Homo sapiens: one gene and its partners. The protein of the gene in region 6 purifies or fractionates together with the protein of the main gene of each other region. This does not show direct contact. Each region holds a gene or a part of one and is shown on either strand. Other genes may lie near its edges.

The links.
Region 1: the proteins of SLC41A1 (region 6) and UBAC2 purify together in Homo sapiens (affinity purification with mass spectrometry; one large-scale study listed by BioGRID and IntAct). This does not show direct contact.
Region 2: the proteins of SLC41A1 (region 6) and CNNM1 purify together in Homo sapiens (affinity purification with mass spectrometry; one large-scale study listed by BioGRID and IntAct). This does not show direct contact.
Region 3: the proteins of SLC41A1 (region 6) and FAF2 purify together in Homo sapiens (affinity purification with mass spectrometry; one large-scale study listed by BioGRID and IntAct). This does not show direct contact.
Region 4: the proteins of SLC41A1 (region 6) and HSD17B4 purify together in Homo sapiens (affinity purification with mass spectrometry; one large-scale study listed by BioGRID and IntAct). This does not show direct contact.
Region 5: the proteins of SLC41A1 (region 6) and HMGCS1 purify together in Homo sapiens (affinity purification with mass spectrometry; one large-scale study listed by BioGRID and IntAct). This does not show direct contact.
Region 7: the proteins of SLC41A1 (region 6) and GOT2 purify together in Homo sapiens (affinity purification with mass spectrometry; one large-scale study listed by BioGRID and IntAct). This does not show direct contact.

The regions. Positions count from the first base shown.
Region 1 is NC_000013.11:99,378,854-99,382,353, forward strand, and holds part of UBAC2 (ubiquitin-associated domain-containing protein 2 isoform 1 precursor), read left to right. Parts: intron 1-3,500. UniProt on the Homo sapiens protein: Restricts trafficking of FAF2 from the endoplasmic reticulum to lipid droplets.
Region 2 is NC_000010.11:99,335,856-99,339,355, reverse strand, and holds part of CNNM1 (metal transporter CNNM1), read right to left. Parts: intron 1-3,500. UniProt on the Homo sapiens protein: Probable metal transporter.
Region 3 is NC_000005.10:176,489,885-176,493,384, reverse strand, and holds part of FAF2 (FAS-associated factor 2), read right to left. Parts: intron 1,192-3,500; coding exon 1,053-1,191; intron 1-1,052. UniProt on the Homo sapiens protein: Plays an important role in endoplasmic reticulum-associated degradation (ERAD) that mediates ubiquitin-dependent degradation of misfolded endoplasmic reticulum proteins.
Region 4 is NC_000005.10:119,525,497-119,528,996, forward strand, and holds part of HSD17B4 (peroxisomal multifunctional enzyme type 2), read left to right. Parts: intron 1-420; coding exon 421-527; intron 528-1,636; coding exon 1,637-1,723; intron 1,724-3,500. UniProt on the Homo sapiens protein: Bifunctional enzyme acting on the peroxisomal fatty acid beta-oxidation pathway.
Region 5 is NC_000005.10:43,303,413-43,306,912, forward strand, and holds part of HMGCS1 (hydroxymethylglutaryl-CoA synthase, cytoplasmic), read right to left. Parts: intron 1-3,500. UniProt on the Homo sapiens protein: Catalyzes the condensation of acetyl-CoA with acetoacetyl-CoA to form HMG-CoA, which is converted by HMG-CoA reductase (HMGCR) into mevalonate, a precursor for cholesterol synthesis.
Region 6 is NC_000001.11:205,799,699-205,803,198, reverse strand, and holds part of SLC41A1 (solute carrier family 41 member 1), read left to right. Parts: intron 1-2,138; coding exon 2,139-2,246; intron 2,247-3,368; coding exon 3,369-3,440; intron 3,441-3,500. UniProt on the Homo sapiens protein: Na(+)/Mg(2+) ion exchanger that acts as a predominant Mg(2+) efflux system at the plasma membrane.
Region 7 is NC_000016.10:58,720,817-58,724,316, forward strand, and holds part of GOT2 (aspartate aminotransferase, mitochondrial isoform 1 precursor), read right to left. Parts: intron 3,087-3,500; coding exon 2,930-3,086; intron 1,463-2,929; coding exon 1,334-1,462; intron 1-1,333. UniProt on the Homo sapiens protein: Catalyzes the irreversible transamination of the L-tryptophan metabolite L-kynurenine to form kynurenic acid (KA). As a member of the malate-aspartate shuttle, it has a key role in the intracellular NAD(H) redox balance.

The DNA of each region.
Region 1 (3,500 bases), on a different chromosome or scaffold from region 6:
TATATTTATCCTTCATTGATCTAAGAATACCTTGGCCACATGGCTGAATTAATGGAGTCACATTTGGGGAAAAGTACATGGCATAAACATGATTTTTGATGAGATGTCAGCTGGAGGATGAACAGAAAAGTTGTCAAGGTATAACAAAATATTTCAGTCATCATCCAGCCCAGCTTCCCTGCAGTGAGCACAAGCCACAGGTCCAAAATGTTTGTGAGACCAATCAGAAAAGATATCCCTAGTTAAACATGCCTTTTTGTTAGCATAATAATGGTCTGGTAAGAAATTCGCTGCTTGAAAACAGCAAGGACACAAACTTTTGCCTGTCATGCAAGTTTACGCTTATGCATGCCTGCTGCATTAGCACATCCCAGCAAAGTTGTTCTGCCCTTGATGTCCTCAGTTCCTGGAGGGGCTGTCTCATTAGCTGTAGTTGTGTCTTTCTGGAGCAATAAAACCAAAACAGTGATGTTCCATCAGCATTATAGACTTGTTCTGGCATCAGATTTTTGTCAGCAATGACCTTGGCAAACTCACCAATGAATTTCTTTGCTGCTTCATGATGCTTTGTCACCACATTAAAAAATTTGGTTTCATGTTTTTTCTTAAATTTCTGCAGCCAACATGTTGAATATTCATAGTTCCTTTTCATTTTCAGTTCCTCATCCTGATAGATCCTTGCTTGTTTCCTGACCCACATAGCATTAAGTGGCAGGTGTTCACTGCAACACCAAGGGATCCATCCTCGGTACATGATCAGGATCTTCATTTTTAGCTTTATGCAGTGTTTCTCTATTTTTCATTAATTTCTGTTTATCACTTTTAGCACAGAACTTCAACAGTTTATCCTTCTGTTTCTTCAGATCCTATATGGTGGTCACTCCAACACCATACTCTCCTGTAAGACGTTTCACACTTACACTGCTCTCCACTTTCTCCAACAGCTTGACTTTCTGTGCTATAGATAAACATAAATCTTTTTCTTATCACTGTTACCCAGAGGGTATCTGCACACCTTTTAGATATTTTAACAACATTTTTATAACACAGAGCAGAAAGTAAGCAAAAAAGCACAGTGAGTGACGCACGTGGGTTTTGGCCCCATGCAGGTCATTGTGGGGAACCTGCCCACTGGCATGTGCTTGCGTGGGGGAGTCGGGGCATGTGCAGAAAAGGCATGTCACAGCTGAAGGAGGGTGAGAGGGTCTCTTTTCCCTTGGAGACACTGAATAAACTACATGTTGTGGCCTGCATTTTGACTGCAGCCCATCACATGAGGTCAGGTGTGGAACTTGCCATTTGTACTGCCATGTTGGTACTCAAAAAGTTTCAAATTCTGGAGCATTTTCGATTTTGAATTTTCAGATTAGGAATGCTTAACGTGTGTTTTGCTTACCTGACTGCACGTCTGCGCAGGCCTCAATTTCGTCTTTCTGTAATTTGAGCACAGGAGTTGATGCTTCACATGCCGAGTAAGCTTTCCCAGGAGAGACCGTAATGAGATGTGTGGGGACTGGGCGTGCTGGGCTTCTCTGAGCAGAGGAATAGTGAGAGCCACAGCAGTAATTGTTAGTGTCCACCAAAGAGCCCTACAGACAACTGTTCTCTGTGCTGCTAGTTTTTGCTCCAGTTCTTACTGTCTATATGGTGAACCTCTGAAACTACATAAAGAAAGGACAGCAGGGGCCACTTGGCTAACTTGCACGGCTGTGAGCACTGCACTGCACCCCTCCACTGGGGAGTATTGGGTAAGCACCCATCGGAACACCTATCCCCTGACCCTTCTCGTCCTTGCTGGCTGGTTGTCATCGCATACCCAAGCCCAAGCATGCAGTTTCAGTTTGCCATGGATGTTTAGTTTTGGACACTATGGGAAACCTTCAGGTGCCCTTTCTTAGTGTAATTGTTTATTCTTTTTAAAGAACTGTGCTAACATTATTGCTACTTAGCAATAGTTTTTAATCTGGTGAAAATAACAGGTCAGTGGGCAGTGAAAGTTCTCCTGTCACACTTGTCTTCTCACCCATAAAAATCACTTAAAGCTCTGAAGCCAGCTTTGGCTAAAGGGGCATGATCTGCCCCGCAGAGGATGAAGAGCGAGCCCGCTGCAAGCTGTGACAGCAGACGCTCTCTTCTGCCAAGACCTGTGAAAAGCCAGTCTTAGTTGTCAAAACCAGCACCGCGGCACATGTCGTTCATGTCTGAGAGAATGAACTCAGAAGGAAGTCTCGTGTACATAGAAAGCTTTCGTTCTTACTCTAGGATGTCACCTACGTGACTTACAACCCAGCCCAGCCATCCCAGACCTAAGGGGTTCTTCCCTCTCCAGGGCAGGGCCTGCATGCAGTCCATGCTGCTGCCCTGTGTTGGTGACCTGTGTGTAGCCAGCCCATTATCAGCATCCTGTGGATTCCAAACCAAATGTATCATCAGTGGAGGGAGAGCTCAAGTGCCAGGTGGAGCTGTGGCCTAAAGTCACACTTCATCACTCCAGATTATGAATCGTCATTTGCCAGATCTCCAAATTGCTGAGTGTGGACAGCAAATGGATTCGTTTGTGCTGGCTGGGTGCAAAGAAGCAGCCAGTCCTCAGCTGCACTTGAAGTACTACAGGTAGTAGTAAAGGTAGCTTTTCCAAGCCGTTTAAATAAACGTCATTAAGAGTGGCCAAGTTGTTTGGGGGCCATGGCATCATGGTGGTGGATAGTAGGTGGAAGGAAGGCAGGCCAGCTCCCGTTTGGCCTGAGTTATCTCCACCAATGACAATGGTCCTTAACTGGAGGGAACATCATACAGGTTATTTCCACCCAAGATTGGAAAGACCACCTTGATCAGAGAGAGTTTTCCTTCCACATGACACATATCCAGCCTGAGTCCTCCAGCCCCTCTCCCTGCACAACCTGATGGAGGCTTGAGAAAGCACAGGGAGGAACACTTAGCTTGAAAATGTTCCTAAGGAAAAGGAAAGTGTGAATTCTGAGAACCAAGTGGCAGAATTGAAGTTTCACATCTGGCAAAAGCTTAAACAGATTATTATCAAATAGATGGTTTGTGAACGTTGAAAAGACAGCTGTGGTCTAGGACACCAAACCAATCCTGTTGGCAAGAGATCACCAAGACCTTTGACAACATCTCATCAGCTTATGAGAGATGTTGGTGACATGCAGAATGGATAATGATAGTGCAATGAAGTGGGTTTGAAACTGATTAAAAATGTTGATTAACCCCTTGAACACAGAGTTCTGGGCTCTTTGACCTGACGTGTTTGACATTTTCATCAATAATAACTTGAACAAAGTTGTAGAGGTTTACTAATCAAATTTAGGCATGATACAAGTTTGAGGGAGATGATTAACAGTAGATAACAAAATGAGAATTGAAAATAATTCATTTTGGTTGACTGGAAAATGATCAGATGGAATTTAACAGAGATATGTAGAGTCCTAGACTTAAAAGGTCAGGTAGGATTTGAGAGACCTGACTTGACAGCATTTTATGTG
Region 2 (3,500 bases), on a different chromosome or scaffold from region 6:
GGAAGAGGATATTTTTAGCTCCATAATGTCTGCCTAGCTCACCACTGTATTCCCAGAGTCTAGTGTAATGCCTGGCCCAAAGCAGGAATTCAAAAAATGTTTACTGAATGAATCAATGAATAAGCAAAGACTGAGTATGGATTGTGCAGTAGGCTGTGTTACAGCCATGCTAGTGTACAGGTGGAGCAGCCTAGCATACGTGGGTTGTGCTTTTTTGTTTGCAAAGATGGTGTTACTAGCCCAGCAAAGCTGAATTGTTTAATTGAGTTAAATGTCAGTCAGTGCTGTATTACTCAGAAGCTTTGACTTCAGAACAAAGCTTTATTCCTTTCCCCTGTTGTCTATACAGAACTCAGTGTCTCCTAAAAGCAATCCAATAATAGAGTAGTAAATTTAAGAAGTATGATAAATCTCTACGGCTCCATTTTTAAAATTAGTCTTCCCAAATTATAGCACTCAACCCTGAGGAAACTATAGCAAAAATACCACCCTATAAGAAAATCACTCTTAAGATTAGAATGGGACATTTGATTTGTGCTTGATGGCAGGACAATGGGCTTTTCCTTTTGTTTTCTTTTTAAGAATTTCATTAAGATTGTTATTATGTGCAATATATTTTTAATATGACAAAATATTGAGTTACTATTTCAGGATAGTGGGATGATTATCCTCATATGATTTTCATACTTCTTTTTTCTACTATTCTATATTTAAATTTTTTTCTGTATAAATTATAGAAACATAAACTTCAGTAAAAAATTTATAAAAGCAAAATATGACTGGGTGCAATGGCTCACACCTGTAATCCTAGCACTTTGGGAGGCCGAGGTTGGCGGATTGCCTGAGCTCAGGAGTTCGAGACCACCCCGGGCAACACGGTGAAACCTCGTCTCTACTAAAATACAAAAATTTAGCCGGGCATGGTGGCACATGCCTGTAGTCCCAGCTACTTGGGAGGCTGAGGCAGGAGAATCGCTTGAACCTGGGAGGCGAGATCACACCACTGCACTCCAGCCTGGGCGACAAAGTGAGACTCCATCTCAAAAAAAAAAAAAAAAAATGCCACCTAGTCATAGTTATTGTATCCTCCATGTTCCCATTGCATTTTTGCATTTCTAGTATAGCACTTTCATTTTAATGCTTTATGTACCAAGGTCTGTCTTACCCATATCCTGTACTTATATACTGAGACATGACTTGTAAATTCAAGGTCACTGGAAGTCATGGGAAAGGTGAGTGTCCAGCTTGCCTTCTAGCTTTGCAAAGGGAAGTGCTATTCATCCACTATGCTTTAGGCTCTTTGGGAACAGAGATTTTATCTCATACCCCTAACTCTTAGCACAGTGCTTTACATGTGAAAAGAAATTGTTGTAATAAATATTAATAGATGTACCTAAAGAAGCTGAGAAACAATAGATGCAACACTTTTCTTCTAACACTAACAAACTTATAAGTTTGATTTGTTCTGCTGCATAGTCCAAAATGATTTAATTCATTTTCTAGTGCTCTGCAGATCTCTTCCATTATATTAAAGTTTAACTCCTTAAGTCATCCATTCAGTCCTTAAACAAACATTCATTGAAAATTTACTATGTGTCATATGCATCGTTAGCTGCTGGAGCTACAAAGACAGATAAGACAGTTTTGCCCTGGAGATGCTCATTATATGGGTGGGAGGCACTTATAAACAAACACTGGTAGTACAGCTTGTTAGTTCAATGATTGAGATATGCACATAAAACAATGAAGCTGGCCAAAAAATCTATTTTTGTATTTTGGGGTTTACAGGAGAAGTCTCCCAGAGGAGGAGGCCCCTGAGCTGAGTGTCAAAGAGCTGGCAATGAATTAGTCAGGCAAAGCATATTCCTGACAGAAGTGCAATGTGAATAAAGGGACAAAGGCAAGAATAGCACAGTGCACCACAGAGTTCAGCATTGCTGGAGGGTAAAGCTGTGGCAGGGAGTGGTGAGCGATGAGGCTGGAGGGGAGGGCAAGAAGCAGGTCATGAGTGCATTGCTGGCTGCCTTACCAGCTTAGCCTCTCTCCCGTAGGCAGCGGGGAGCTGCTGAAGGGTTTTAAGCAGTGACATTACTGGAGATTATTTTAGTGGCACTAGAGAGAACGAATTTGAGGGAGACAAAAATGTGAAAAAGTGTAACTTCTTAGGAGGCATTTGCATAAATGAGTAATAGACTTGTGTTTATATTTAATAATCATAGCTAACATCTACTTAGTACTTACATGACAGGTAGTAAGTAAGCATAATGCGATAGTCTTAATATTTCACACAATCTTATGAGTAAATATTAGTATTATTTTCATTTTACAGCTAATGAAACAGACATAAACAGTTAAGTAATTTGCCCAGGGCCAGTATCAACCCAGGCATTCTAGTAAGTCTTATGTTCTTTTTTTGAGACAGGGTCTCATTCTGTTGCCACTGGAGTTCAGTGGCATGATCTTGGCTTACTGCAACCTCCCTGCCTCAGCCTCCTGAGTAACTGGAATTACAGGTGTGCACCATTACTGCCCGGCTAATTTTTGTATTTTTAGTAGAGACGGGGTTTCACTGTGTTGGCCAGGCTGGTCTCTAACTCCTGACCTCAAATGATCCACCTGTCTCGGCCTCCCAAAGTGCTCGGATTACAGGAGTGAGCTACCACGCCTGGCCAAATCTTATGTTCTTAATCACTATCCTGTTCGTTTAATTTCTGTTTCCTGTATTAGAGTGAAGCTCTATAGAGACAAGGACTATGTTGATGATGTTCTCCACTGTGCCAACACAACTATTTGTTGAATAAAATCAGTGAATAACCTAAGTGGAACAAATAGTGGATTAAATTATGTACAGATTTAAGAAATCGTCATGCACTGCTTAACTATGGAGACACTCTCTGAGAAATTCATTGCTAGGCAATTTCATGATTGTGTGAACATCATAGAATGTAGTCACACAAAACCTAGAGGATATAGTGTACTACACACATAGGCTATATGTTATAATCTATTGCTCCTAGGCTACAAACCTGTAGAGCATGTTACTGTGCCAAATACTGTAGGTAATTGTAACACAATGGTAAGTATTTGCGTATCTAAACATAGTAAAGGTAATGTGTTGCCTTAGGACGATGTTAGGTGTTATGACTGCTAGGACATCACTAGGTGACAGGAATTTTCCAGCTCCAATGTAATCTTATGGGATCACCATCATACATGCAGTCCATCATTGACCAAAATGACATGACTGCAGTTGGATGCAATATTGGCATCCAATTATTTGGCCAGCTTTGGTGATTGTTATGGACTGAATGTTTGTCTTCCCACAAAATTCATATGTTGAAGCCCTAACGACACCCAGAGAGGCCTCTAAGGAAGTATAGTAGTTAAGATTAAATGATGGCATAAGGGTGGGCCCTAATCCAACAGGATTGATGTCTTTCTAAGAAGAGAGGACCAGAGCCTCTTGCTGTCTGTGGACAGGCACTGAGGAAAGGCCATGG
Region 3 (3,500 bases), on a different chromosome or scaffold from region 6:
TCTACCCTCAGGATCATAGCAGAGAGGGTACACAGGAGGTGCTCATCTCACTCATCTCTGTATCTCTAGCACTGAGGACATTGCCTGGCATACAGTAGGTGCTCAGTTTTTGTTGAGTGTGGTGGGAACAGCCAGCGAGGAGACTGACTATGATAAAAAGCAGATGTGGGAAAATGAAAGCAGGAAGCAAGGGTGAGCATTTTTCTTTCTCCAGATAGATTCAGGAATTCTGGAGGCTGCATAATAGAACCCCCTTTTGCCTATTGCCACAGCATTCCCATAGTTTTCCCTATTCCTGTAGTGTTAATTCTATGTATTTCTCTGGCAAACTAGAGATATACCAAACACCCACAGAACTCTAATTTTTCCTCCCCTGAATGGTGAGGTCTTGAGTCAAAGGTCTACATGGCTGAGGTTGAATGAGATGTGCTACCCTGAGTCTATGGTCTATGTCCTTATTCAATTCTGTGAGAGATCAAAGAAGATGTAGGCTTTGCCTTCAAGGGGCTTTCAGTCTGGTAGCAGAGATTAGACACGAACACAAATGATATAGGAAAGAATATAAAATTGCTATCAATTTTTAAAAGCTATGGAAGAACAAAGGGAAAGATTAGTATTCTAGATGATGAGATAGGGCAGGACAGGGCACAACAATCAGGGATAGCTGTAAGTGGGGCGTGACATAATCTAGTTGAAGGACTGGCAAGATTCCAATTAGCAAAAATGTGAGGAAGGCATTCCACGTGGATGGACCGGCAAAAGCAAAGGCACAGAGGTAGGCAAGTACAGACTATGTTCAGGGAATGAGTCAGCTGGAACTGAGGGTATGGTAAAATAAGTTATGCAGAAAAGACCTCAAAAGAAGGGCAGCATTAGATCAAAGAGGGGCCAGCTAAAAGGTTTGGTCTTTTTTATTACCCACCCCTATAAGCAGTGAAGAGCTAATTAAGGTTTTTGAGTACAAGAAGGACATGATCAGTGCTGGGCTGTGCTCTCCTTTGAGGATAGAATCATTTCGGTAAGTTGGCATCTATATGGTTTATGGCACTGACCTGGCTGTACGTTCCCTGGTAGAAGACAGGGTGTGCCCTCCCATATTTCTCTTCAAAAGAGTGCATAAATGAAACAATGTCCCCAACGGGGTCAGTGACCCGGCTGCGAGGGTCAGGCCGTATAAAACGAAGAGCAAACCTGGGGAGGAAGGAATAAATATCACATGAATCCAGCTTACTACAGTGCATATCGAGTGGGCCAATTTGTACAGATTCCTGTAACAGAGCCAGAGGCACGGCAACAAAGGGAGGTGAACAGTCTGTGAGTGGACCATCAAATCCGAGAGTAGAGTCTGGTTCAAAAGCCATAAAGCAGCAAGTGTTATTCTATTGCCTGTTCAGGAAGAATGCAAACTACTGGGATTATAAATTCCAACACTGGCCTACATAAATCCTGAGTATTTTTTGTAGAACAATTTAGGGCTAGAAGGGTTTGGAAGGGAAGACACAGTATCCAAAAAGATCATGTGTCAGGCTATGCACCCAGACTCTCTAGAATGGCACCGTCTAAGTACTGTAGCCACTAGTCAAATGTGGCTATTCTGAATTTAAATCTATTACATACAATTAAAATTCAGTTCCTTAGTAATGCTAGCCACATTTCAAGTGCTCAACAGCCACGTGTTTAATGGCTTTCATACTGAACAGCGGAGATACAGAACGTTTCTATCATCACAGAGAGTTCTACTGGACAGTGCTCTAGAACAGAGGTCATTTTCTGGTTGTCCTACTTGCCCCTCCTTCTCCTTTCTGTTTTCCTGGGATTTTAAATATTGAGTTCACAACCCCAAACTATTCAACTTACGGATAGGAACTTCAAATCTGAAGTTGCGGTTATGACTTACTTGCTCTTCAAAGGGGCAAGTACCTTTTGCTTGATGATTTATGGTTGATGGCAACCATGGAGGAAGTTATAAAACTGCTCCACAGTACCCTGGCAGATGTGGAGTACTGGCAGCTCTTGTAAAGTGAAGAATACATACCTAATGGTACCACACATCTGTTTCTAAAGGGCCTACCCTATTTGTATAGTACCATTTATTTATCCTTTGGGTTTCCAGAGAAGGCAACAGGACAGAGGATAATGTGTTACCTAACATTAAACAAGCTGGTTGGATGATACAGCTGCATTAAAATTAGTAATACATGCCGTGCATATTTTCCCTAGAAAAGCAAACAATATTCATTTACTTAAAACGTTTTCAGCACAGACAAGGTGATTAAACTGTGATACTTTTCCTTAACAAAAAGTGAGTCAATTCATTATCCCAACAAATTCCCCCTGTGTATACAATTCTACTTGGAATTTCTCCCGAGTAATCAAACCAAATTCATTGACAACAACGTTCCAGAGCGAATTAAAAGCACAAAATGTAGTAAGTTGTATACGTGGGGGAATGGTTAGAAATTCATCAGAAGACTGATGTTTTAACTACTTTCTTTGAAATTAAGCATTTTAGAATTCTCTCTTAAAGCCTTTATTTTTTTTTCCTCATTACACAATATTCCCACGATCTACACAATTTAGGACAATCAGCTTTTTTGATTTTTTAGAAAAAAACAGAGATGTCAACTTAGTTTTCATTATGATTTTAAAGATTTTTACATGTTCATTCTTAAATAAAATGGGGATGGAAAGAGTACTAAGCAATTAGTGATCATGAAGAATGTTGCTAAACCAAGAAAGCCATTAAGTAGACAGCCTCATAAAACACCAAGGGTCCAATATAAAAGGTACTATCTGACCCTTGTACTTATGCAGCTGCTGGACCCACAACTTCAGCCTCTGCTCCCTAGAGGCAGGGTAAAGGCTGTCCCATATTTGAAGGGAAGTACAGGGAACCTGTACTTCCAGGGAAGGCCCAGACTACATATCCCAGCTCCATCTGCTGGCCTGGATGCCCTTGAACATTTAAGTTCCCCATAAAGCCTAGACATGGCTCTGGACCAGATAACCCAAGCCTGACATGCTAAGAAGTTGTGCCCCACTCATTTTCTTTTCTTTTTCTTTTTTTTTTTTTTGAGACGGAGTCCCACTCTCTCACCCAGGCTGGAGTGCAGTGGTGCGATCTAGGCTCACTGCAAGCTCCGCCTCCCGGGTTCACGCCATTCTCCTGCCTCAGCCTCCTGAGTAGTTGGGACTACAGGCACCAGCCACCGCGCCCGGCTAATTTTTTGTATTTTTAGTAGAGACAGGGTTTCACCGTATTAGCCAGGATGGTCTTGATCTCCTGACGTTGTGATCCGCCCACCTCAGCCTCCCAAAGTGCTGGGATTACAGGCGTGAGCCACAGAGCCCGGCCAGTTGAGCCCCACTCATTTTCTGGCCTTGGACCCTCTGTAGCTTCCAATGATGAGCTCTTTTAATGGTACATGAAGGAAGCTAGAAGAAAGGTGAAGGTATGAAGCAAGTGGGTATATACATAAAAGGGTTCCAGTGTTTGCAAC
Region 4 (3,500 bases), on a different chromosome or scaffold from region 6:
TCCCGCTAGTGCGAGGTCTAGGATAGGACCACGAGGGTGGGTGTGTGAGTTATCACAAAGGACAAGGTCATTGGAGAGAGAGCAAGGAACTGAAAGGTTAGGGAAGGATCATGTACCTGTGTGGATGTTGAGAGTACCCTGGATGATTTCATGGTTACAACCAAAACTAAACAAAACAATTGTGTTTCCAGATCTCTCACATTCTTTTCCTGTTTTGTTTTTTTTTTTTCTTTCTTTCTTTATTTCATAATTTCCTCCCAGGAAATACTCTTTAAAAAATATCTACTGTGTTTCTTAAAATAGATGGTATAATTCCTGCTAATGCAGTCTAAGGACATTTTTAAAGTCCTGAATTAACTACACTTGATTTTTAAACTTTAAAGGTACCTGTATCTAACTCAGTGTTCTCTCTTTTCCTAGGTTTTGACAAGCCCATATTACATGGATTATGTACATTTGGATTTTCTGCCAGGCGTGTGTTACAGCAGTTTGCAGATAATGATGTGTCAAGATTCAAGGCAATTAAGGTAAATGTGTATTACTACGTAATTTGAATATTACTTCCTTTTTCTATCTTTAGAGAAGAAAAGGGGTTTTAGTGATTTAATTGAAAATAGATATTGTACTACAGCAATGTACATTTTTATTATTTCATTGACCTGGCAATCAGCACACTTTCTTTTTGTAGCTATAAATAGCTCTGTTGCACATGCACCAGGAAGGATGCACAGTTGCAATTTTGACAGATTAACTGGGTTGCTTTATAAATTAATTAGGTGCATATATTATATATATATATATCAGTACGTATGCCTTGAAAACTCAAGATTTGCTTTTTTTAACTGTTTTATCATTTTCATTAATTTAATTAAAAATGTTAAGTGGCTGATTAAGTCCAATAAACATACATCTACAGCAATATAATGACTGCATATTGTTTTAACTCTGTACTTTTTAGTTGATTTCAAATTTTTATCCATTATAAATAACAAGGAAAAATATCCATGCCCATATTATTTTTGTGTATGTTTAAGCCAAAAGATGTACACTTAAAAAAGTTTAAGGGGTTGTCAAATAGCTCCAAAAGCTTTTAATTTATCCTCCATGCAGTAGTGAAAATATATTTTCTGATGCATTGCCTTTGATAACACTAATTACTCTCATGCTTTTCATTTTGTTACAACTATTTTTTATTATCCAGTAATATATACACAGAGAAAATAATATAAAAAATTATGAAATAAAAAGTGGAATTATTTTGCCCTGCATACTCACCCCAGGCCTCATTCCTTAGACTTAATTTGTACCACTTTTAACTGTTTCTTTAAGTTGTTCTGATGTACCTATATAACTCACCTAATATGATTATGGTTTTATTTCTTGATTTGTCAAGATAAAAAACACTATTTTTTGATTCCATACTTTGAAAGACAAAGAATTGGCTTACTTATATTAGTTACATCTTTATTTTACTAATTTTATCATATTATACTTAGGTCTTTTATGAATTTAAATATCTTTAAACCTTGATTTTTTTTTTCTTTTGTGCTCTCTAGTTTCCTTTCCAATTTTTTCCTCCTACAAGTAAAAGAGTTTCCTTTTAAAACATTTTTAACCCCACAATTCTTTTTTAAAGGCTCGTTTTGCAAAACCAGTATATCCAGGACAAACTCTACAAACTGAGATGTGGAAGGAAGGAAACAGAATTCATTTTCAAACCAAGGTATGAATTTTGCTTTTTCACCCTTCTCACATGCTTTATCATTGTGTTCCATCTTACCATTTTTTTTTGGTTAGTACTATGGATAGAAAGTTCTTTTTAAGTAATGGTAAATTTTAATTAAAAATAAGATACAGCTTGTCTGGTGTTTTCAAAATTTTTATTTATCAGGCAACACTTAATAAAATAGAAGTGTTTTGCACCCTGTGTTTTATTTTCTCTTTTATTTTCAACTAAATTGGTAGCTATCTATGTAGCAGTGGCCCAGCTATTCTGAAAACCCAGCCAACCATGTCTTTTTGGCTCAACTAGTCAATCAAGTCATTGTCAAAATATCATCTTAAAAAATTTAAAGGCATGACTCAGACAGATATACAGTGAAAACATGACAGAAATCTATCTGACTCATTAATGAAGGATCTTGCAATATGATAAAACATGTTCGAAAAAAAATTAGAACAACAGTTTATATGGTCCAATAGGAAAGTTATTCTAAAATAATTTTGCAGAGTTAGAGACAAAATTAGTTAATATCCTATAGAACAATAAAATCTTATCCTTTATGAGTTTTCTCTGGACAGAAATCATATGCATCTTGATTACACAAAAAATCCACAAATTAACAAGTTACATCACAGAGTCTGGGCCTAACAAATAGTAAATGAGGTTATTTTGGGGTGAGGCTGTTAGCAATGCTCCAGTAAAATACTAAAAGGACATGCAATCATTGTTTTATTTGCAAGTTATTAAAAGACAGTTTTTGTTAACACAGTTGACCAGGCTAATACTTTTTGGCTTGATCATTTCATGCTATATAGAGCATATTAAACAACTCCAATGATAATAGGAACAGCTTTCATTTATTGAGAACCTATAAACTGGCAATAGTATTTTCTTTAATATGCATAATAAATCTGTATGTAAATATAAGAAAATCTAGGTTCCTAAGAAAATCTAATCTAGGTGTCCTAAATAACTTGCTCATGGTCACACAGCAAGTGGTTGAGCTGGGATAGAAACCCGATCAGCATGGCTTCAAAGCTTTGATTACAGGCCCCAAATGTCTTTTCTGTATCATGTTTTCTTTCACAAATAGATAACTGCAAAATTCTTCTTACATGGTTGCTTTACTCCTAATTCCTTTCTGCTGGTTGCAATATCATTTTCCTGCTTAATTTGTACATATTGTTTATTTTACTTTTCAAATTCCTCCTGTCCTTCAGGCTTAAGTTCAAGCTCCACTTTGCTCTTAGAGACAGTCTCTTACTATTCCCCACTTTCCTACCCATAGATACACTCAAATTGGTGTTCTCTGAAAGCCTTTGCAGCTAATATCTGTGCCACATATTTTGGAGCCCTCACATTTTCTAATTTGTTTTGTATGAGTAAGTTTTGCTTTTTGATTAAGATTATGAACTCTAAAAGTGTTAAGGACCATGACTATATTACAGGTTTTTATTTTCCTGCAATTCTGGTGATGAATAGTATGTAAATAATTTCTATGGATACAAACTTGAAGGGCTGAGAAATGATTAAATGTCTAAATATAATGTATTCTTGCCATTTTGTTAAATTCTAAGCATGCTGTCTTATCTTTTCAGCATATTTGCTATATTTTTCTTCAGTGATTATAGATATTCTTTTTCTATTAGTTTTAGGACTCCTTCTCTCCCTGCCTCCTTTTCTCACTTTCTCCCTCCCTTCCTCCTTTCCTTTCTATTCTTAAGATATAAGAAACATTTTAAACCAGTGTTTTAAAATGATTTGCTTGATTTGGTAA
Region 5 (3,500 bases), on a different chromosome or scaffold from region 6:
ACACGGGCAATCCAGGAGGAGAGCCCTGATCGGGAACCAACCACGCTGGCACCCTGACTTCCAGACTGCAAACCTATGAGATCATAAATGTCTGCTGTTTAAACCACCTACTCTATGGTATTTTGCTGTGGCACCTAAGCAGATTAAATAGTCTGGTCACCTCAACTAAGTCCAAGCTCCTTAAGGTCTCCTCATGTCTTAGACTACTGTATGGCCCATTTTACCAGACATAGCATATATACCGCTGCTACTCAATTCCACAATGGAAAGAAAAACTCCTAAACACAACAGTCTACTTCCGAATTATATCCTCTTGATTCCTAAATTACTGGCCATATTTTTGTATTCAATACAGGAAAAACAATGTCATCACCAACATTCAGGGACAGGGGCATAAAGAAAGACTAAGGGAGGCTCATTCTTGTTAAGACCTAAAGCTGAGGAGGGTAAAGATAAGGCTTTTACATTCCTACTCCATTCATCTTCAACTCCTTTCCTGTGTCTACAACTCAGATGGAGGACTACTGATTTTCTGGATATGAAGCACTTGAAATGTTCTACATCCATCCTCACTCTGAGCTTCAACAAACTCTCCCCATCAATTTTTTGATAAAGTTGGTGCCCACTTTGCTGAATTTGAAATGAAAATATAAAAGGGCTGCCTAATATGCCACTAGGCATGGATTCTAAGTTTATAGTAAAATAAGATACTGGATAGTCCACAAGAAAGAGCCCTACAACTACTGTTATCAGAAAAAGACTAGTCCATAGGCTTATAAGCTCCTACATATGATCTCTTAAGTCACCAAAGTAGGAGTAACCACCTTTCCAGCCTTTCCCACAAGGCTACCCTTTAGATTCTTTTCAACTCTTCAAACTGCTTTAAATATGCTGAAGACAGTATGGTCTTCCTTGCCTGGCTCAGTGGTTTTTAACACTATTGGAAATAAAGTGAACAGGGAATATATCTTTTTGAAGGTATAAACCAGTTTGCAATATACTTGTACTCACTAATAAATTCACTTTAGTCTTTTAAGAGCATCATGTAGCAACACTGGCAATATATTTAATTATCCTTATAATGCTTGTACAATTCTCTATAAAAAGTTATAATGCAAGGCTTCCATTTCAGAATTAATCTGTATTTGTCACAGTCTGACCAGCTCTGATCAATTCTTTGTATTATAGTACTCCTAAAATAAGATACAACTCTATGACTCCTAAATGTCCTACATTAAATACATGACATGTTTCATTTGAAAACAAACAAAAAACGTAGGTTAACTAAAATAACCCACATACATCAAATGGAAAGTGAAACACAATTCTGACTTTGATGGAAAAAAACATTTTTACATTGTCCAAGTCAGTCAATATTACTCATTCTCTGAGGGTTTCTGACAGCCAATGTGTTTTCCATTATGTTCTTGGTAAAAAGCCATCTAATCTGAAATATTTAGCCTTTGGTTCAAATTCAGAAAGAGAGTGATTAAGTTGACAGGAAAATTAATACAGAGAAATAATTGCTTTCATGACATTTAGAAGAACAGAAAGTTAATAGTTTCTGGTCTCAAATGTTACTTTTTTTTTTGAGACGGAGTTTCGCTCTTGTTGCCCAGGCTGGAGTGCAATGGTGTGATCTCGGCTCACTGCAACCTCCGCCTCCCAGGTTCAAGCGATTCTACTGCCTCAGCCTCTCAAGTAGCTGGGATTACAGGCGGGTGCCACCACACCCAGCTGATTTTGTATTTTTAATAGAGATGGGGTTTGACCATGTTGGTCAGGCTGGTCTCAAACTCCTGACCTCAAGTGATCCACCCGCCTCGGCCTCCCGAAGTGCTGGGATTACAGGCGTGAGCCACCGTGCCCAGCAAATGTTACTTTTAACTATCCTATTGAGCATGTGCTCTTACATTGTCCTTTCAAATGCTCTCTGAAATAGGCTAGATATAGTTAGATATAAATTAGGGAAAAAAAGACTAGCTACAGGTCTGAGGTGCTCACATTATGGTATTCACTCTTTACCCTACCAGAGAATAGAATATTCTGGTTAATTCACTATTTAAGAATAAAGAGGCCGGGTGTGATGGCTCACACCTGTAATCCCAGCACTTTGGGAGGCCGAGGTGGGCGGATCACTTAAGGTCAGGAGTTCAAGACCAGCCTGGCCAAAATGGTGAAACCCCCTCTCTACTAAAAATACAAAAATTAGCTGGTTTTGGTGGCGGGCAACAGTAATCCCAGCTACTTGGAAGGCTGAGGCAGGAGAATCACTTGAACCTGGGAGACGGAGGTTGCAGTGAGCCAAGATCTGAGCCAAGATCGTGCCACTGCACTCCAGCCTGGGTCACAGAGTGAGACTCCGTCTCAAAAAAAAAAAAAAAAAAATTTAAAAAATTTAAAAAAAGAGATAAATCACAAAAACTTTCAAGTAGAACATAATTTTAAAAATCTGATGGTTAAAAAAATTACGTTTTTAATTTTTTACAGATAATGCATTTTATTATTTTCAGAGTACTATATTCACCATAAAATAAGTCTAAAGAGAATAATGAGGACTCTGTATTTATAATAAAATACACACATTTTCTTTTTAAATTCTATCCTTAAAAAAGGCGAGAAAAGGCAACTTTCAGAGAACTTTGTAAACCTTTCAAGTCTTCCAACAAAGTAGTACCAACAGAGGACTAAAGTCTTAAATAAGTCTCATTAAAGTGAAGGCTCACTCCCTCTGGTGGACAAAAGAAACTCCATATGCTATTTCCAGAATCAGTAAAGCAAGATAAGGAAGCCTTGTTAATGTTTTCTGAATGCTTCCTGCCTAGAATACATAAAAGACCTATATAGTTATTCTGAGAATAAATCTGGAAATGAAAGAGAACTGGAAAGGGGAAAAAAGGGGGAGGGAAACTAGCTGATGATACTGGTGCAAGGGAAGTCCTAACCTAGCTCCTCAATGGCTGTGTTGGGGAAGGACTTCAGCATCAGTCTCTCCTAAGTGAGCTCTGCCTCTGCTCTCTTCTCTGTCATAGGCCAACAGTTTTTTCCAAACTGCATGTCTAACCATTGTCAAGATGCTGCAGGTTGAGCATTCCTAATACAAAAATGCTAAAATCTGAAATGCTCCAAAATCTGAAACTCTCTGAGCACCAACATGATGCTCAAAGGAAATGCTCATTGGAACATTTTGGATTTTGGATTTCCAGATTAGGGCTGCTCAAATGGTATGTTTTCTCAAATATTCCAAGACCCAGAAAAATCCAAAATCTTTAACATTGCTGGTCCCAAGCATTGTTCAGATAAGGAAAATTCAATTTATATTTCAAACTGCCAAGTTTCTCCTCTATTATTTAGGCTTAGCCTCTCTGCATTAAACAAGGAGCTTTTGGAGAGCAGGAACCGTGCTTTGTTCATTTTTGTGTCCCCGGTACCCAACCCACTGTTTGGCATATGGTAGATGCTAATGTTGAATAAATGAAATGGTACTAGACTTCTAATCT
Region 6 (3,500 bases):
TCCAATCTCCACATGCTTTTTTCTTTTCTTGAGACGGAGTCTTGCTCTGTCACCCAGGCTGGAGTGCAGTGGCACTGTCTCGGCTCACTGCAACCTCCAACTCCCAAGTTCAAGCAATTCTTCTGCCTCAGCCTCCCCAGTAGCTGGGATTACAGGTGTGCGCCACCATTCCCGGCTAATTTTTGTATTTTTAGTAGAAACAGGGTTTCACTATGTTTGCCAGGCTGGTCTCCAACTCCTGACCTCAAGTGATCCACTTTCCTTGGCCTCCCAAAGTGCTGGGATTACAGGCATGAGCCACTATGCCCAGCCCAAACTCTACATCCTTGCTAACACTGATTATTTTCTGGGTTTTTAAATAGTAACCATCCTAATGAGTGTGAGGTGATCTCTTACTAATCTACAGTATTGCTCAACTTTATTTTATCTATTTTATTTTATTTTATTTTATTTTATTTTATTTTATTTTATTTTATTTTTGAGACAGAGTTTCACTCTTATTGCCCAGGCTGGAGTGCAGTGGTGCGATCTTGGCTCACTGCAACCTCCACCTCTTGGGTTCAAGCGATTCTCCTGCCTCAGCCTCCCGAGTAGCTTGGGATTACAAGCATGTGCCACCACGACCAGCTAATTTTTGTATTTTCAGTAGAGACGGGGTTTCTCCATGTTGGTCAGGCTGGTCTCAAACTCCTGGCCTCAGGTGATCTGCCCGCCTCGGCCTCCCAAAGTGCTGGGATTATAGGTGTGAGCCGCTGCGCTCGGCCACTGCTCATCTTTAACGACAGAGTGTGGGTGTTGGAATTGCCTTGAAAGACCATCTGATCTGGTCCCTGAATTGAACATTTTTCAAGAGCTTGAGGCCCTTGTAACTTGTCTAAGGTGTCCAGCCGGTCTACGTGAGGAGGTGTACTGGGGAGATAAGCAGGGGGCCATCCCTGCTGTCTCCTGTAGGAGACCCAAGGCTCTTGGTCCAGTGCCCTTGCCAAACATAGTGCTTGGCCTCCCAGCCATGATACGCAGACCAACCCATATATATCCGCCTGGCCTCCTGCCTCCTCCTCCCTCTCCAAACCTGGAGGCTTTCCATTCTTAAAACAAATAAAAGAAACCACCTACCCTGTTAGGGCCAGGGAGGGAGACACAATCCTAAACCTTTTTGCAAGTCCTCAGTTTCAATTGCAAGTAAAGTAGCTTTCAAATAGCCAGTCCTGGTTCCTGCAGTCCTCTTAGCACTAACTAGTGGAATACTGTCTGAACCCCAGTTTACTCATTCACAAAATGAGAATAAAAATAGCCCCTACCTTACTGGGTTGTTAAGATGATTAAAAGAGAAAATACATGGAGAGCACTTAGCCTAGCACACAATCAGTCCTTAATAGATGTTAACCAAAGACATTGGTAGGAGAGCCAGGATTGATTGTCTTGGGACTAGAACTCAGGTCTCCTGACTCCCGGTCCAGGGCTCTTCCTACAGGAGTACACTTGCTTCTCCTAGCTGAGAGATTGAGGAAGGTGTGTGGGGGTAAGGCAGTGCACAGAGAAATAAAAAGCCTCTTGCAGGCCAGCATTCAGAGGTTTAGGGGCCACAGTCTTAATTCAGAGCCTGTTCAGAAGGAGAGTTGCTGTGGCTGAGGCCCAAAGCCCTTGGAGATAGAAACCAAACAAACTCTCTAATCTCCCCAGCCTCGGCCCCAGCCCTGTGGAGCCCAACTCTTCACAGCTGAGACAACAGAGAAACTGGACTGAAGGCAAAGGGGCCAGGGATTGCAATTTGAGGGGGGATTGCAAAGGATTTCTGGGGTGTCAGGCAGCCCAGGGCAGCTCAGCTGTGTGGGTCCCCATTACCCTTCCCCACCCACCTCCAGGAAAACAGAAAAGGTAGGGCCAGACTGAGAGTCTCCCAACCGGCAGAAACCCTCTCCATCTCCCTGGTTCTGGGTGGCAGGAAGGGGGGTTGTGTTGTTTGAAGAATCATGGGCTTGGTTTGGTTCCAAGGTTCTTGGAGGAAAGGTGGCTGGCGTGCTCACTCCCTGCTGATTCTATTTCCTCCTCGAGCCCCTGATCTCAGACTACCTGTTGAACCTCAATGCCCGCCCTTTGGGGCACTGAAATTCCTGGGTTCTGTTTTCACCTCGTAGCACTGGGAAGTCTTCCAGAAGGTGACAGAGGTCTTCATCCTAGTGCCTGCGCTGCTGGGGCTCAAAGGGAACCTGGAAATGACCCTGGCATCAAGGCTTTCCACTGCAGTGAGTATCCTGGCTGGGAGGAGTGGGGCACAGAGAGGACTCTGGGCAGCACAGAGCCAGAGACTGGGAGAGGGCTACGAGCCCTTCTCCACTGCCCAGGCCTGGAGTGTGGGGCTGGGGTGGGAAGGGAGGGCCTGGCTGGGCAGGTGTAGGGAGATCCCAGGCTGGGTGTCCTGCTCCTGGGCAGGGGCTCCCTGCCCAAAGTGGTTCCCAGGCTTGGTTTCTGGATGTCCCAGCCACCCCTGGACTCCTGCCCCACCCCCTACCTCTCAACCACCTCGTGACTGTTTGTGCAGCTTTGACAGGCAGGCATCATGCTGGTTCCTCCACCCGCACAGATGGGGGCCTCCTCTGATCTCCAGCCCCTGCTTTGCAGCTGGGCGGGAGCAGAGCCAGGCCCTCCCAGCACCCCCAGCCCCCCGGCCATCCCATTCCCTTTACCCATGGCAGCTTGCTCTTCTTTAAGGAAACAGACAGAGAGGAGCTGCTCGTCATTCCTACCTCCCACAGTTGTGAGCCGTGACGATTCCGGGCCTGAACAGATACAGGGCCCTGGGCTGGAGGTGGGAGATGATAAAACTCAGGAGGCCAGGGATCTCCCTGCAGGGTCAAGAGTCTAGAGAAGGTGACAGACAGAAGTGGCATCCAAGTTAACCCACCCTGACTTGCCATACCCGACTTCTGGCCCATGCCACCCACTCCTTCCCAAATACTCTTGGAGCCTCAGTCCTGCACCAGCAGCTGACCTTTCCTTCCCTGGGATCGCAGGCTGGCTTCAGAGTCAGGGACTGGGTTGTTCTGACCCATGCAGGAATGGGCTGCCCAGATAAGCAGGGCAAAGGATAGAATTTGCCTCTGCTCAGCTGGTGTCCTGAGAGGAAGAGAGGCGACTGCCTAGGGGACCCCCTTCCAACCCCCCACCCAGCTGCAGGAGCCCAGCTTTAGCTCCTTCCCTTTCACCTCAGTTTCCCTGATCCTGCTTCACCTTTCCGGGACTGTCAGGTCCTGCTCTCAGAGTCTTAGGCCACATGTACTGCCTCATGATCTAGGCAGGAGCCTAATGGATGGAGCTTCAGGCCTTTTCCAGCCTGAAGCTCCAGCCCCTTGCCCTCCCTTTCCCAGGCCAACATTGGACACATGGACACACCCAAGGAGCTCTGGCGGATGATCACTGGGAACATGGCCCTCATCCAGGTAAGAAGGCAGGGACCAGAGAGGGTGGGCTAAGCTTCCCCTTAGTCAGGAATCTCTGAA
Region 7 (3,500 bases), on a different chromosome or scaffold from region 6:
CTCAGGTGATCCACCCGCCTTGGTCCCGGAAAGTGCTGGGATTACAGGAGTGAGCCACTGCGCCCGGCTGAGGCACAACAACTTATAAAAGACAAGCTGATGTTATTTTAAGGTAGGCCAGTTTCATACTTAGGTTGTTATTTAGATGGAGCAGAGACTAGGCAAAAGAGCACATGAATTAAAAAGTACAGAAATTTCCAGGAGGGGCTAACAGGCAGTTGACTGTATGGACAGAACTAAACCAAATTCTATTTGACGTAGGATAATTACTACATAACCCTGGGGTTGAGGTTGTGTGCTTTACTCTGAGTTAACGAATTCATGTGTGGACTTAGACCAGTCTTGTAAATAAAGTGTATTTATTCTGGCTTTTCAGAGGGGGAAGGGCAGAAAAAATGTTGACTTAATTTTGCTAGTTTGTATGTTTCTTCACTCCCCAGGCTTACCCAGAAAAACGTACAAATGCACTCACTAAAAAACATGTTTTTTTCAAAAGAAAGTGAACCACAATGTGCACGAGTTCACATGTTGGGAGCGTGGTCTTCTTTCTGTGTCCATGTGGGCTGTGAAGGGACAGCAGAGGGCTGCCAGACTGGTCCAGCCCCCACAGTCCACCCATGGCTTGTTTCCTGCTTGCTGCTTCTGTGCAAGTTGGAAGCTTAGGACATGAGGGTGTGGGCTAACTGCAGGCTTAAAACTCGGCATAGTTAACATTTCTAAAGCATATTTGATGTAAAATGAACATAAGCAGGTAGAGACTAACAGCAAAAGTAACATCAAATCTATCAGTCAAATGACTACCGCATTTTCAGGATTACTACTAGTACATTTTTGGAATTGGTGTCATGTAAATTATTTTATTTAATGATGGCAATTTACTATCAAATAAGAATTATTAGAAATAGTGTGGCCTCCTCAAAACAATCATTACACACAAAATGAGTTATCTTTTCATATTTCTTAAATTTTTTTTTTTTTTTTGAGATGGAGTTCTGCTGTTGTTGCCCAGGCTGGAGTTCAATGGCATGATCTTGGCTCACCACAACCTCTGCCTTCCAGGTTCAAGTGATTCTCCTGCCTAAGCCTCCTGAGTAGCTGGGATTACAGGCATGTGTCACCATGCCCGGCTAATTTTGTATTTTTAGTAGAGATGGGGTTTCTCCATGTTAATCAGGCTGGTCTCGAACTCCCGACCTCAGATGAACCACCCGCCTTGGCCTCCCAAAGTGGTGGGATTACAGGCGTGAGCCATCGCGCCTGGCCTAAAATTGTTTAAATAATTACAAATTTGTTAAAACAGACCTGGGATGATGCCAGAGCCTGCTCAGCTTACCCGGCCACTCTTCAAGACTTCGCTGTTCTCACCCAGGGCTAGTTCTGCAGATGCCTTGCAAAATTCAGCCAGTCCCCCAATGGGCAGGTATTCCTTGTCCAAATTTTTTGCGGCAATCTGGGCCTCTGCCTAGACAAGAGAAAATACATCCATTGAATTTCTTCTCCTTACTTGGAATTACTATGATTAATGTTTAAAGTTTTATAAGTTAAGTTTTGGAGGTAAAGTCTTTTTTTTTTGAGATGGAGTTTTGCTCTGTCACCCAGGCTGGAGTGCAGTAGTGTGATCTCGGCTCACTGCAACCTCCACCTCCCGGGTTCAAGTGATTGTCTTGCTTCAGCCTCCCGAGTAGCTGGGATTACAGGCGTGCACCACCACGCCCAGCTAATTTTGTATTTTTAGTAGATACGGGGTTTCACTATGTTGGCCAGGCTGGTCTCGAACTCCTGACCTCAGGTGATCCACCTGCCTCGGCCTCCTAAAGTGCTGGGATTACAGGCATGAGCCACTGCGCCCGGCCAAACCTTTTTTTAAAATTTGAAGTTACTCTCTGAGAAGAAGGGTAGGTAGAATGCTTGATAGTTTGTATTGCAGAACAGAAATACTTTCTTTTTCAAATTGTATTTTATTGTTTAAGTTAGGTTTTATGTGGATGGGTATAGTCTCTCTTGGTTACAATTTAACATAAAATGAGATTCTTGGAATGCACAAGACCAAGGTTTAAGAGCAACACCTAAAATAGATATAAGATGATTAAATCAAACTAAATACAAAAGAGAAAGCATGTCAAGCTATATGCCAGTCTAAGAACTTCGAAGTGTTAACAGTAATAGCCACACATCTTCGTGCTTTGGCATTGGAAGCCTGGCTGTCCCTTACAAGTTGTGTTACCCTAGGCAAGTTATTTAGCCTTCCTGAGCCTCAGTTTCCTCCTCTGTTAAATGGAGGAACTATTTCTACCTCTCACAGTGTTGAGGTGAAGTGTGAATGAGGGAATGTACAATAGTGCTTGGTAGTGATGCAGGTTGCAGTAGCAAATACTTGCTGAATAACTTAAAAAATTATTCTAAGGGGATTTGTTATATTATTTAGTTAACAAATAAAGATGCTACTAATAAAAATATAACAAAAGAAAGAGGTGAAAATTGCATAGCTCAGCAGGAAGAAAGGACAGAGCATGCCTGTGTACAAAGGTTTGATTAAAGTAATCACAGTTAGAGAAATGGAAAATAAAAATAGTAATCCACGAAGAGCTATTCCTCTCAACAAGAGACAGCGCTTAAAGTCTTGGTCCTCTTATGCACCTTCAGGATTAAAGTAGGCATAGCTAAGCATTTCTAAAGCGTATTTAATGTCTGTTTTATAGATGATCACAGAACCATAGAAAGTTCAATCTTGGGAAAAAACAGGTGGTTCCAACCTCTCACCTTTACAGTCAAGGAGACTACAGCCCAGAAAACCCGGGTGATTCATGCCATTAGTGCCAGAACTAAAGCCCAGGGCTCCTGATTCCCGGTCCAGCACTATTCCTGCCACTCTCCAGGGCTCTCTTCAGTTTATTCATCCCATTCAAAAGGAGATGAACAGCAAGCTCACCTTGCGGACGCTAGGCAGAACGTAAGGCTTTCCATTATCATCCCGGTAGGCACCAACTCCCAGATTCATCTTTTTGCTATTGGTGTCCCTCTTAAAGGCTTCAGTGACTCCCAGAATGGGATCTGGAGGTCCCATTTCCACATGGGTCCACCAGGAGCTGAAATGAGAAACACATTAGCTCAATCCCATTAGCTAGATCCAAGATCCATTTTACTTATTTATTTATGAGATAGACTCTTGCTCTGTTGCCCAGGCTGGAGTGCAGTGGTGCTATCTTGGCTCACTGCAGCGTTTGCCTCCTGGGCTCAAGTGATTCTCCCACTCCAGCCTCCCAAGTAGCTGGGATTACAGGCATGCATTACCACGTCAGCTAATTTTTGTATTTTTAGTGGAGATGGGGTTTCACCATGTTGGCCAGGCTGGTTTTAAACTCCAGACCTCAAGTGATCCACCGCACCCGGCCATATTACTCTTATATATTTAAAATTATGAAAAATACAAATTTGTGTTAAATAAAATTGAATTGCTATTCTGACAAACTTTTTTTTTTTTTTTGAGACAGAGTCTCGCT